Homo sapiens: one gene and its partners. The protein of the gene in region 2 purifies or fractionates together with the protein of the main gene of each other region. This does not show direct contact. Each region holds a gene or a part of one and is shown on either strand. Other genes may lie near its edges.

Evidence for each region.
Region 1: the proteins of PIP (region 2) and TOP3A purify together in Homo sapiens (co-immunoprecipitation; 2 studies listed by BioGRID and IntAct, with this or other methods). This does not show direct contact.
Region 3: the proteins of PIP (region 2) and FARP2 purify together in Homo sapiens (co-immunoprecipitation; 2 studies listed by BioGRID and IntAct, with this or other methods). This does not show direct contact.

The regions. Positions count from the first base shown.
Region 1 is NC_000017.11:18,308,459-18,312,114, forward strand, and holds part of TOP3A (DNA topoisomerase 3-alpha), read right to left. Parts: intron 484-3,656; coding exon 424-483; intron 1-423. UniProt on the Homo sapiens protein: Releases the supercoiling and torsional tension of DNA introduced during the DNA replication and transcription by transiently cleaving and rejoining one strand of the DNA duplex.
Region 2 is NC_000007.14:143,134,963-143,137,699, forward strand, and holds part of PIP (prolactin-inducible protein precursor), read left to right. Parts: intron 1-231; coding exon 232-337; intron 338-2,737.
Region 3 is NC_000002.12:241,488,667-241,492,322, reverse strand, and holds part of FARP2 (FERM, ARHGEF and pleckstrin domain-containing protein 2), read right to left. Parts: intron 2,613-3,656; coding exon of another isoform or gene 2,592-2,612; intron 2,362-2,591; coding exon 2,279-2,361; intron 1,263-2,278; coding exon 1,144-1,262; intron 808-1,143; coding exon 644-807; intron 1-643. UniProt on the Homo sapiens protein: Functions as a guanine nucleotide exchange factor that activates RAC1. May have relatively low activity. Plays a role in the response to class 3 semaphorins and remodeling of the actin cytoskeleton.

The DNA of each region.
Region 1 (3,656 bases), on a different chromosome or scaffold from region 2:
TTTTTGCAGTTATTATTCTGCCAAATCATTAAAATGAGAGGGAGGAGCTTCTATTAAAGACATTTTTAAAAACCTGATTGGGAAGAAATAAACATAAATATAAGCTCTTCAAAGCCAAAAGTCACAGGAATACAATCACCATTCTAATGATATGGTGTATAACTGACGCCTCTTGCATCAGTTAAATTTTCCTCAAACTATTGTATATTAGCTTTTTTTTTTTGTAATGAAGAGCTGAGATGGGACCATATTTTATTAAAAAGAGAACTCCTCATAAATTATAAAGTGATCACCCCATATCCAGGAACCTTTAGGTTGTTAACAGTTGTTATTCTTAAGACAGCGACATATTCTACATATGACGAGGCTGACTACTTTCTCTTGCTTATGATTGAAATATTTTAGAAATATTTTAGCACCTACCTGGCCATACAGATGATAATCAAATTCATAGATCTTGTTGAATTTTGAAAGTCCTTCTCTCTATAAAACAAAAATAAGTAAAAAATATAAATTACGTTTAAAACAATGGATTCCTTTGTATAATTCTTTCTGATCCTGAATTTGGCAATGATTTCTTGGTTATGATACCAAAAATATAACCAACATTGCTCCAAAGAAGATAAGAAATGGCCAACAAGCATATGAAAAGATGCTCAATGTTATTAATCATTAGGAAAACACAAATCAAAACCATGATGAGGTACCACTCCATACCCATTAGGATAATAATTAAATAGAATAATAAAAAAAACAAGTAAAATAACAAGTGTTGTTGAGGATGTGGAGAAATTGGACATTGTCAGTGGAAATGTAAAATGCTTTGGCCACTCTGGAAAATGTTGGTGTTTCCTCAAAAAGTTACAGAGTTATCACATGTCACAGCAATTCCACTCCTACAAATTTACCCAAAAGAATTAAAAACGCATTCAAATACACTTTGGGAGGCTGAGACAGTTGGATCACTTTAGGTCAGGAGTCCGAGACCAGCCTGGCCAACATGGTGAAACCCCATCTCTACTAAAAATACAACAATTGGCCAGGTGTGGTGGTGTGTGCCTGTAATCCCAGTTACTTGGGGAGGCTGAGGCAGGAGAATCACTTGAGCCCAGGAGGTGGACGTTGCAGTGAGTGGAGATGGCGCCACTGCACTCTAGCCTGGGTGACAGAGCGAGACTGTCTCAAAAAACAAAAAACAAACAAAAAAACACATTCAAACAAAAACTTGTACATGAAAGTCTATAGAAGTTCTTTTTTTTTTTTTTTTTTGAGATGGAGTCTGGCTCTGTCGCCCAGGCTGGAGTCCAGTGGCGTGATCTCGGCTCACTGCAAGCTCCACCTCCCGGGTTCACACCATTCTCCTGCCTCAGCCTCCCGAGTAGCTGGGACTACAGGCACCTGCCACCACGCCCGGCTAATTTTTTTGTATTTTTAGTAGAGATGGGGTTTCACCGTGTTAGCCAGAATGTTCTCAATCTCCTGACCTCGTGATCCACCTGCCTCGGCCTCCCAAAGTGCTGGGATTACAGGTGTGAGCCACCACGCCCAGCGAATGTCTATAGAAGTTCTATTCACAATAGTCAAAAGATGAAAACAACCCAAATGTCCATCAACTGATGTATGGTAAAATGAAATATGATCTATCCATATGATAGAATATTATTCAGCCATAAAAAGGAATGAAGAGGCCAGGTGCAATGGCTCATGCCTGTAATTCCAGCACTTTGGGAGGCTGAGGTGGGCGGATCATGAGGTCAGGAGTTTGAGACCAGCCTGGCCAACATAGTGAAACCCTGTCTCTACTAAAAATACAAAAAATTAGCTGGGCGTGGTGGTGGGTGCCTGTAATCCCAGCTACTTGGGAGGCTGAGGCAGGAGAATCGCTTGAACCTGGGAGGCGGTGGTTACAATGAGCCGAGATCTCATCACTGCACTCCAGCCTGAGCGACAGTGAGAGAGACTCCTTCTCAAAAACCAAAAAAAAGGAATGAAGAACTGATATTAATACATGGTACAACATGGATGGACTTCAAGATTATGTTAAGTGAAAGAAACCTGACACAAAAGAGCATGTAAGATATGGGTCCACTTATAGGAAATGCCCAGAACAGGCAAATCCATGGGGAAAGAAGGCAGATTCGTGGTTGTGAGGGGCTGAGGAGAGGGTAAGGGGAGTGACTGCTTAATGGATATGAGGCTTCCTCTTGGGGTGAAAAAAAACCTTCTGGAACTAGATAATGATGATGGTGGCACATTTAGTGGACAAAATTCCACTGAACTATATACTTCAAAATGATTAAAATGGTCAATTTTCTGTGCATTTTACCACTCAACCTACATGGCTCTCTAAGATTCTTATGATCTGCACTCAACTGCTGCTCTTGCTTAACTCATCGGTGTCTCTTCCCACCACACCACACCCCTAACTTCTCACTGTTTCTGAATATGCCAAGCAGTTTCAAGCCACTAGGTTGTTCTTTACAGTTTCTACTGCCTGGTAAAACTTTCAGGCTCAGCTCAAACATGCATTCAACAACTATGAATTTTTTTTTTTTTTTTTGAGACAGAGTCTCACTCTGTTGCCCAGGCTGGAGTGCAGTGGCACAATCTCGGCTCACTGCAAGCTCCACCTCCCGGGTTCATGCCATTCTGCTGCCTCAGCCTCCCGAGTAGCTGGGACTACAGGCGTCTGCCAGCATGCCCGGCTAATTTTTTGTATTTTTAGTAGAGACAGGGTTTCACCGTGTTAGCCAGGATGGTCTCAATCTCTTGACCTCATGATCCGCCCACCTCAGCCTCCCAGAGTGCTGGGATTACAGGTATGAGCCACCATGCCTGGCCTAATTTTTTTTTGAGATGGAGTCTCACTCTGTCGCCCAGGCTGTAATGTAATGGCGCAATCTAGGCTCACTGCAAGCTCCACTTCCCGGGTTGAAGCGATTCTCCTGCCTCAGCCTCGTGAGTAGCTGGGATTACAGGACCCCGCCACCACACCTGGCTAATTTTTGTATTTTTAGTAGAGATGGGGTTTTGCCATGTTGGCCAGGCTGGTCTTGAACTCACGACCTCAGGTGGTCTGCCCGCTTGAGCCTCCCCAACTGCTGGGATTACAGGCATGAGCCGCTGCGCTCAGCCCAAGTATTAATATTTATTGAAAGTTTCCTGCATTCCAGACACCATATTAGGCGTTAGGACATAGCAATTAACAAAATATAATCACTGTCCTTTGGAGTTTAGAGTCCAAGGAGAGGCAGTGACAAAAATCAAATAAATGATCGCACATCCCATTATTTAACTGTAACTAGTAGATGCCTTTCAAGTAGAATAGAGTGCTATGACAGCATGTCAGTAAGGGTCTCTGACCTAGTGTGGGGGAACAGGTGGTGAGGGAAGGATTCCTTGAAGATGAGACATTTCAGCAGCCTCTCTCCTCTAGCCGCCCCAGATGCCAAAAGGAAAGATGGCCAAGGGGAAGAAGTGGCCCTGGCCCCTGTTGTCATGGAGCAGCAGTAGGCCAAAAAGGTGGTAAATCCCATTTGAGAAAAGCCCTAATAATTTTGGCATTGGATATCTAGCCTAAGGGCCTCACCCACTTTGTCAAATAGTCCCGCTATAAATGGCTGCTGCGGCAGAGCCGCTGTACTCTATAAGTGGCT
Region 2 (2,737 bases):
GGAATCTTAAAGTGTCCTAGTTGTTTTATTAAACAAAATTAAATCTGTGTGAAGTTACCAATCCAATCAACACATGAAAATTCCAGGGGATTCCAATGCTGAACAATTGATCCAAGCCCCATAATTTCCCTCCCTTGCCCATCCTGTGCCCCTTGCCCTGTTCATGGCTCCCCCCTCACTCAAAGATTGGTCTCTGATCCTGGTGTTCTGATTCTCTCTTCCCACAATCAGTCGGAAGATCATAATAAAGAATTTTGACATTCCCAAGTCAGTACGTCCAAATGACGAAGTCACTGCAGTGCTTGCAGTTCAAACAGAATTGAAAGAATGCATGGTGGTAAGTAGAGGACTGGGGGCGTGACTTCAAAAGATAATTCAACTCCTTGATTATAAACATAATTTAATCTCTCACTTTAATAATGTACAGTGTACTTAATGAAACATTCTCACTTATGTTATGCTACTTGAGACTCAGAACAACTGTGGGAGCTTGGGACAGATGACTTCTCATTTTCCAGATGAAGAAGTTCGAATCCAGAGAAGTCTAGGATAAATAAGAAGGAAAGGAAGAAGGAATAGGAAGTGAGAAAGAGGGAAAAAGAAAAAAGTGTAAGAGCTAGTAGAGAAGCAGTTAGAGTCCTTCCAAGGTCCTGAGCATGTTTAGTTTAGGATGGAGGGAGGGGAGTTCTCAGAAGAGAAAGCAGCAACTCCACACCATAGGTTGAGGTGGGTGGGCAGAAGAGGACATGCAGGATATGACTCCTCCTCTCCAGTAAGCACTGAGCGACTCTACTGTCCTCTTGCCTTCTTCTGCTCCTTTGCTCTGGGTCACCAGAAGTGGACTCTTGTTCCAGCCTCCCCACCCTGACAAGGAGCTCGTAATCATCTCCTCCTTTTCCCCACGTTCAGAAGTCCAATCTCTGAACAAGGTCAGAGGTTTTCAAATGGTAATGTGTCTAAAACTCACTCGGGGATCTTGTTAAAATTCAGAGTTTCATTCAGCAGGTCTGGGGAGAGATTAGAACTTCTGGATTTTAACAGACGCCCAAGGTACACCAAGGCTGTGCCCAAAGGATCACATTTTTGAGCAGCTTGGGATTAGAGCATTATCCCTCCTGTCTAGCTGCCAAGGGCCAGAAGTCAAATAGACTTATGCAGTTATTAATCCACAGTGACTCTTCCCTGGGACACTGGTTGTGTGTCCTTTTCCTAGTCATTGATCTCAGATGTCACAAGCATGCAAACTGCCCCCACTACCTTTGTTCTAGGGCCAAGACCCATGCATCTCCCATCTCCCCTACTCCCTCCCCAGACCCTTCATGAAGGACACCTTCTATCAGGCAGCACAAGTATTTCCTTACAACATAAGTTTCCTAATTCAAATGAGACTTAAGGACAATGATTACATGTAAAACAACATTGAGAACATGAAGATTGCTATTCAGTCAACTGCATTCTAGAAATATCCCCACACCTGTAAAGAAAAATTCCTGGTCAATGAGCAAAGAATATCACAGCTGCTTTGTCAAATTTTTCTATTTTCAGTCCAAGAATCTGAGACATGTACACTAATTTGGGGTAGGAGCAAGGCTGAATCATAATTTTTCAACTCTGTATTTTGTTTATCACAAACACAGGTGAGAATGAGAATAAGAACATGTACATAATGTGTACATAAAATTTTTGTGAAAATGGTGGTTTCTGGTGGTAATAGTTAATGGTAGTGGTAGGTATAATAAGATATGTTTGAATCAATAAAATTACATGTGACATAATTTTGTGCTTTTGTGATTAATAAAAGTATGCTTTTAAGAATCATGCTAGTACTCTAAAATAAAGCAATCTTTTCAAAACCCACCTAAGCACAACTAAAAGAATAAGAAATCTTTAGACTAACTGACTTTGCAAACTAGAAATAATTTACAGGAAAGGAAATTTTGTTAATTCTAGTCAACAAATTTTTATTTGTGGCTTCATTTTTCAAAGTATAACTATTTTTAAATTTTTATTAAAATATATTTATATAACTATAAAATTCTTACCATCTAATCCTCATTTTTTATCATTTATAATGTTTTCTGTAACTGAATTTTTGAAAAAGTGAGGTTTAGACTCATATTTATTTATTTTAGAATTAGAATAGAATATACCTACAATCGTATATTTGAATATAAAGATTGCATAATCCTTTAAAGCTGAAGGAAACTTGTGGCAAAAACAATGCTTAAACATTTTTGTGCTACAGGCCATTTCGTTGGTTTCATGAAGTTTATGAAACATTTATCAGAAAATTGCTTCTAAATGTATAAAGTGCATTGGATTACAGAGAGAAACTACCACATTGAGTAACAGTGACTAACTTGTAAAAAATAAATTTGTGATGCAGTAAGGTATGTGTTTCTTTATGCACACATTAGCTGGGAAAGCAATACATTTAAAATATAGAAGAGTTGAATTTTATTCTATGAACACATTATCTGTGTGATGGATGTTGTTACTTAGCTTGAAGAAGTACATTAAACTGCACTGGTCTTTGGCAACACGTCCCACGTGCCATGCTAGGCATGCAACGGATTCTGATCTTTTATTGTACAAGTGGTGTAAATTCTGATTCATGACGATATGTTGTTGCTAATGTAACAGAAAGGTAAACAAGGCCGGGCACAGTGGCTTGTGCCTGTAATCCCAGCACTTTGGGAGGCCAAAGTGGGCAGATCACCTGAGGTCAGGAGTTCGA
Region 3 (3,656 bases), on a different chromosome or scaffold from region 2:
GGACCTGCTGCACCCTGACCTACCCAGGGTCATCAGGGGAGAGGCTCGGGCTCAGCCCCCTCACGGGGGTGCTGGGGTAGCTCCTGAGCCCCTGCCCAGCCGATTGTGGCTGGGGTGAATTATGGGGAGACAGCAAAAAAGACAAGAGCTCTGGGTGGAGTAAGACAGCAGGCTTGGGGAAGGGTGTGGGGGCACCAGGCTGAGGAACCTGGTGACCCACAATGGCAGACCGGGCCCATGCAGTGAGATAGAGCTGACAACCTTCTATGGCAGGGTGCCTGGGCAGAGCCTCGAGCTCCAAGCCCGAGGTGAAGGGTTTTGGAGGCACTGGGACGGGGGGCTGCAGGGGATGTGTCTGGGAAGGCTTTTCTCAGCTCCACTACACACCAGCTCCAGGCCCTGAGGACACGCCCCGCCTGCTGGACTTCATCAGACACCAGACCTGAAACACCCTTTTCAAAGAGGGCTTGACTGGATGAGGGGCACTTTCCATACCAACTTCTACCAAGGGGAGAGTAAGAGGCAGTCCTCTGGGGCCAAGCCTGCCTGCTGGTACCCTCCTGAGGTCCCCTCCTCAGCAGCCAAGTGCAGAGACAGCTGGGAACATTCCAGATGCACTGAGGTGGTGCTCATGCGGTCGTACCTCGACAGCTGCACTGTGGTCTGCCCTGGACACGCTGGTGTTCCGGTACCAGCACACGTGCATTGTGGTGTTGGCCCGGTGCTGGCCATGCCCCTCCAGGGAGCTGCGGACACCCCGAGCATCATCTTCTGACTCCTGCTCCAGAGATACCTCGTTGGGGGATCCTGGGGAGAAGTCAGCAGCGTCTCAGGGGGAACCCCCTGTGGCCTCTGCTTGCCAAATACTTCCACCCCTTGGGTTCCTCTCGGGGGTCCTGGGGAAATGGGGAGCCCTTGGTGCTAGGCCAGCTGCTGGCTGAGAGCAAAACTACAGGTGCTTCTGCCAGAGCAGCTGATTGACACCTCTTCCCGCCCAGGCATGAGGCGTAGCCTGGAACATTCCTTGTGGAAGGGGATTGTGTGGGAACTTAGCGGGCCAATGGGGACCAAGGAAAACAGTTTCCAAAAAAAGCCTCCTTAGGTGTAGTGGAGGTCTCCTGGGGGGTTGTGGCCAGCACTCACTGGGGGGACGAGTGCACACAGTGCGGCCTGGCAGTGCAGGGGCCGTGTCACCGCCACTCTTGGCTGCTTGGATCGCGGAGTTCAGGTCCAGCATCCACTTCTCTTTCTCCAGCCGAGTGCTGCAGGGAGAAGGGCAAGGCTCAGTGGCTCTGCTCTTCCTTGTGTAGGGCCCCAGCCCTCAAGGGAGGGCGAGCCGTCAGGGCACCTGTTCTCTCACATTCTGCTTTGTCCTGCCTGGTGAGAGGACTGGGAAACGTGTCCCCTCCAGCGAGAATAGCAGGGAGGAGAGCTGGGAGGGACCTGCATCAGCCTGACCTCCAGGGTGCTGTGACAGGGTTGTGGGTGCCAGGGCAGGGCCCCGGTCCTAGAACAGGGGGTCTGCAGGGGTATTTGTTCCTGAAATGATGTTCTCTACATCTGTGATGCTGAAATGCAAGATTGGCCCTGGTTCATGATTAAGTGAGCATTTCCTGGTGGGAACTGAGTGCCCTGTGCTCTGATGCTGGCCAGGGCGCTGCAGAGTCAGAGCTGAGACTCCTCACAGAGCACAGTGTGGTGCTGGTGACCATGCAGGGGCCCCTGCATCCTGGCCGCCAAATGAGCTCAGTGTCATCCTTCTGTTGATCTTATCTGGGGAGGAGGGAGCTGTTTCCACTTGATTCTGTGCCATAGCCTGGGCTGCCTCATGTGAGTCTATACCACACTGGGACTGGGAGGCAGTGTTTGGCTGGGCTGGGTGTAAGCTGCCCTGTTGGGGCTTTGACCACTAGCTGCTGGCACTTCTTGACGTGAGGGTTGGGGAAGCGCCTGTGCCCTGGGAGACCACAGGAGCCTGCCCACTCACCCGTCCTGTCTTTGGAGGCACTGTGAACCGGAGGGCAGAGGGAGCGGCTCCACAGCACTGGGGCCTGCCACTTGTGGGGTGTTGTCAGGTTGGCAAGCAGCCCTGCCCCTGACAAGGGCGAGGCTGCTCCTTTGGTTGTGTGACTTGGAAGCAGAGCTCAGAGTCAAAGGGGGCACAACCCCATGAGGCTACATGGCTCCTCACAGCTCAGAGGACTCAGAGGCTCATGGCGAGGAAGTCCCCACCCCTCCATCCAGGGCTGCTCAGGATGGAGACATGGAAGACCCTTACCTGGCTGCCACCACGATTGTTTTCTGAGCCGCGTAGATGGTGAAACAGTGTGGAACAGACCACTCGTTATCACTTTCTTCCACCTGTGGGTGGGAGAAACGGTCCAAGTCTTGTGGCCAAGAAGGAACTGACAGCCTAAGCCTGAGCAGGACACAAGGTGACTGCTGGCAATGCTAGGTGGGGCTTGGAAGCCCAGTGCTGTCCAAGTGCACACAGACTCTACAAGAGGCCAAGGAGGACACTGGTATCCCTGCGCCATGGCAGCTGCACCCCAGGGGGTGAGCCATGGGCCAGAGGGCACCCAAATACTCACCGGGGGGTCCAGCACTATTAGCTGAAAATCAAGCAAAGGAAAAAATGTTGAGCATTTTGATTATCCAAAAGGGAGTTGGACAATTCATTTATGAACCAAAGACCAAAACCTAACAGAGCTAGATTCAAAGAAAACCCACTGTGGATTAATTTTAATTTTAAGTAGTTAGATGAAATAATTGCAAAATAAAATATTACCAAATCTAATCTAAAAGCATGTAACAAGGAATTGTCCCACGATCAAGTAAGGTTGTTTGGGGAATGCAAGGATCGTTCGGCATTAGAAAGCTGATTGATAACATTCATCCTATCAGAAGTCAAAGAGAAAAAGGGAAATCCATTCTCTACATGCTGAAAATGCCTTTGCCAAAATCCAAGGTGTTATTTCTGATAATACCTCTTAGAAACAGAAGGAAACTGTGTTAACATGATAAAGATGATCTTTTCAAGCCAAGAGCCATCATCCTTCCCTTAACAGTCAGGAACGAGGGCCAGTTCTCTGTCCCCAGGACCAGCCAGTTACCAACAACTCCACAGAATGGACAGCTTCCCTGTGCAGAGCCTGATACACCAACCAAGCCTCTCACTGGACATCAAAAATCTGAATCAACATAAGCAAGGGCAGGCAAAACATTGTCCAGATGTTAGTCTTCCCGTAAGTTAACACAAAAATTTAATGCAATTTCAACTGAAATCTCCATGGTGTTTTTGTAAGGAATTTGTCCAATGACTTAGAAGATTACTTGGAAGAATTAAATGCTTGAGAATAGCAAAGAATCTTTTTTAAAAGGAGGCAGAATAAGGGATGGAATGTGTTCACCAAACAGTGACTATCTCATATGACACCACTAATGAGAGAGAGTGGACTGATGCTGGACAGACAGGAATGGAGCAGAATGCCCAGAAAGAACTCGAGTGCAAAGACACAGGCTTCCATTTGATAAAGTCTGAGATCAGTGAGAAAATGAAGGATTCAACAAATAATGGGGAGAAATGTTACATCTCAATCTAATATCTATCAAAACAAATTCTAGGCCAGGCACGGTGGCTCACACCTGTAATCCCA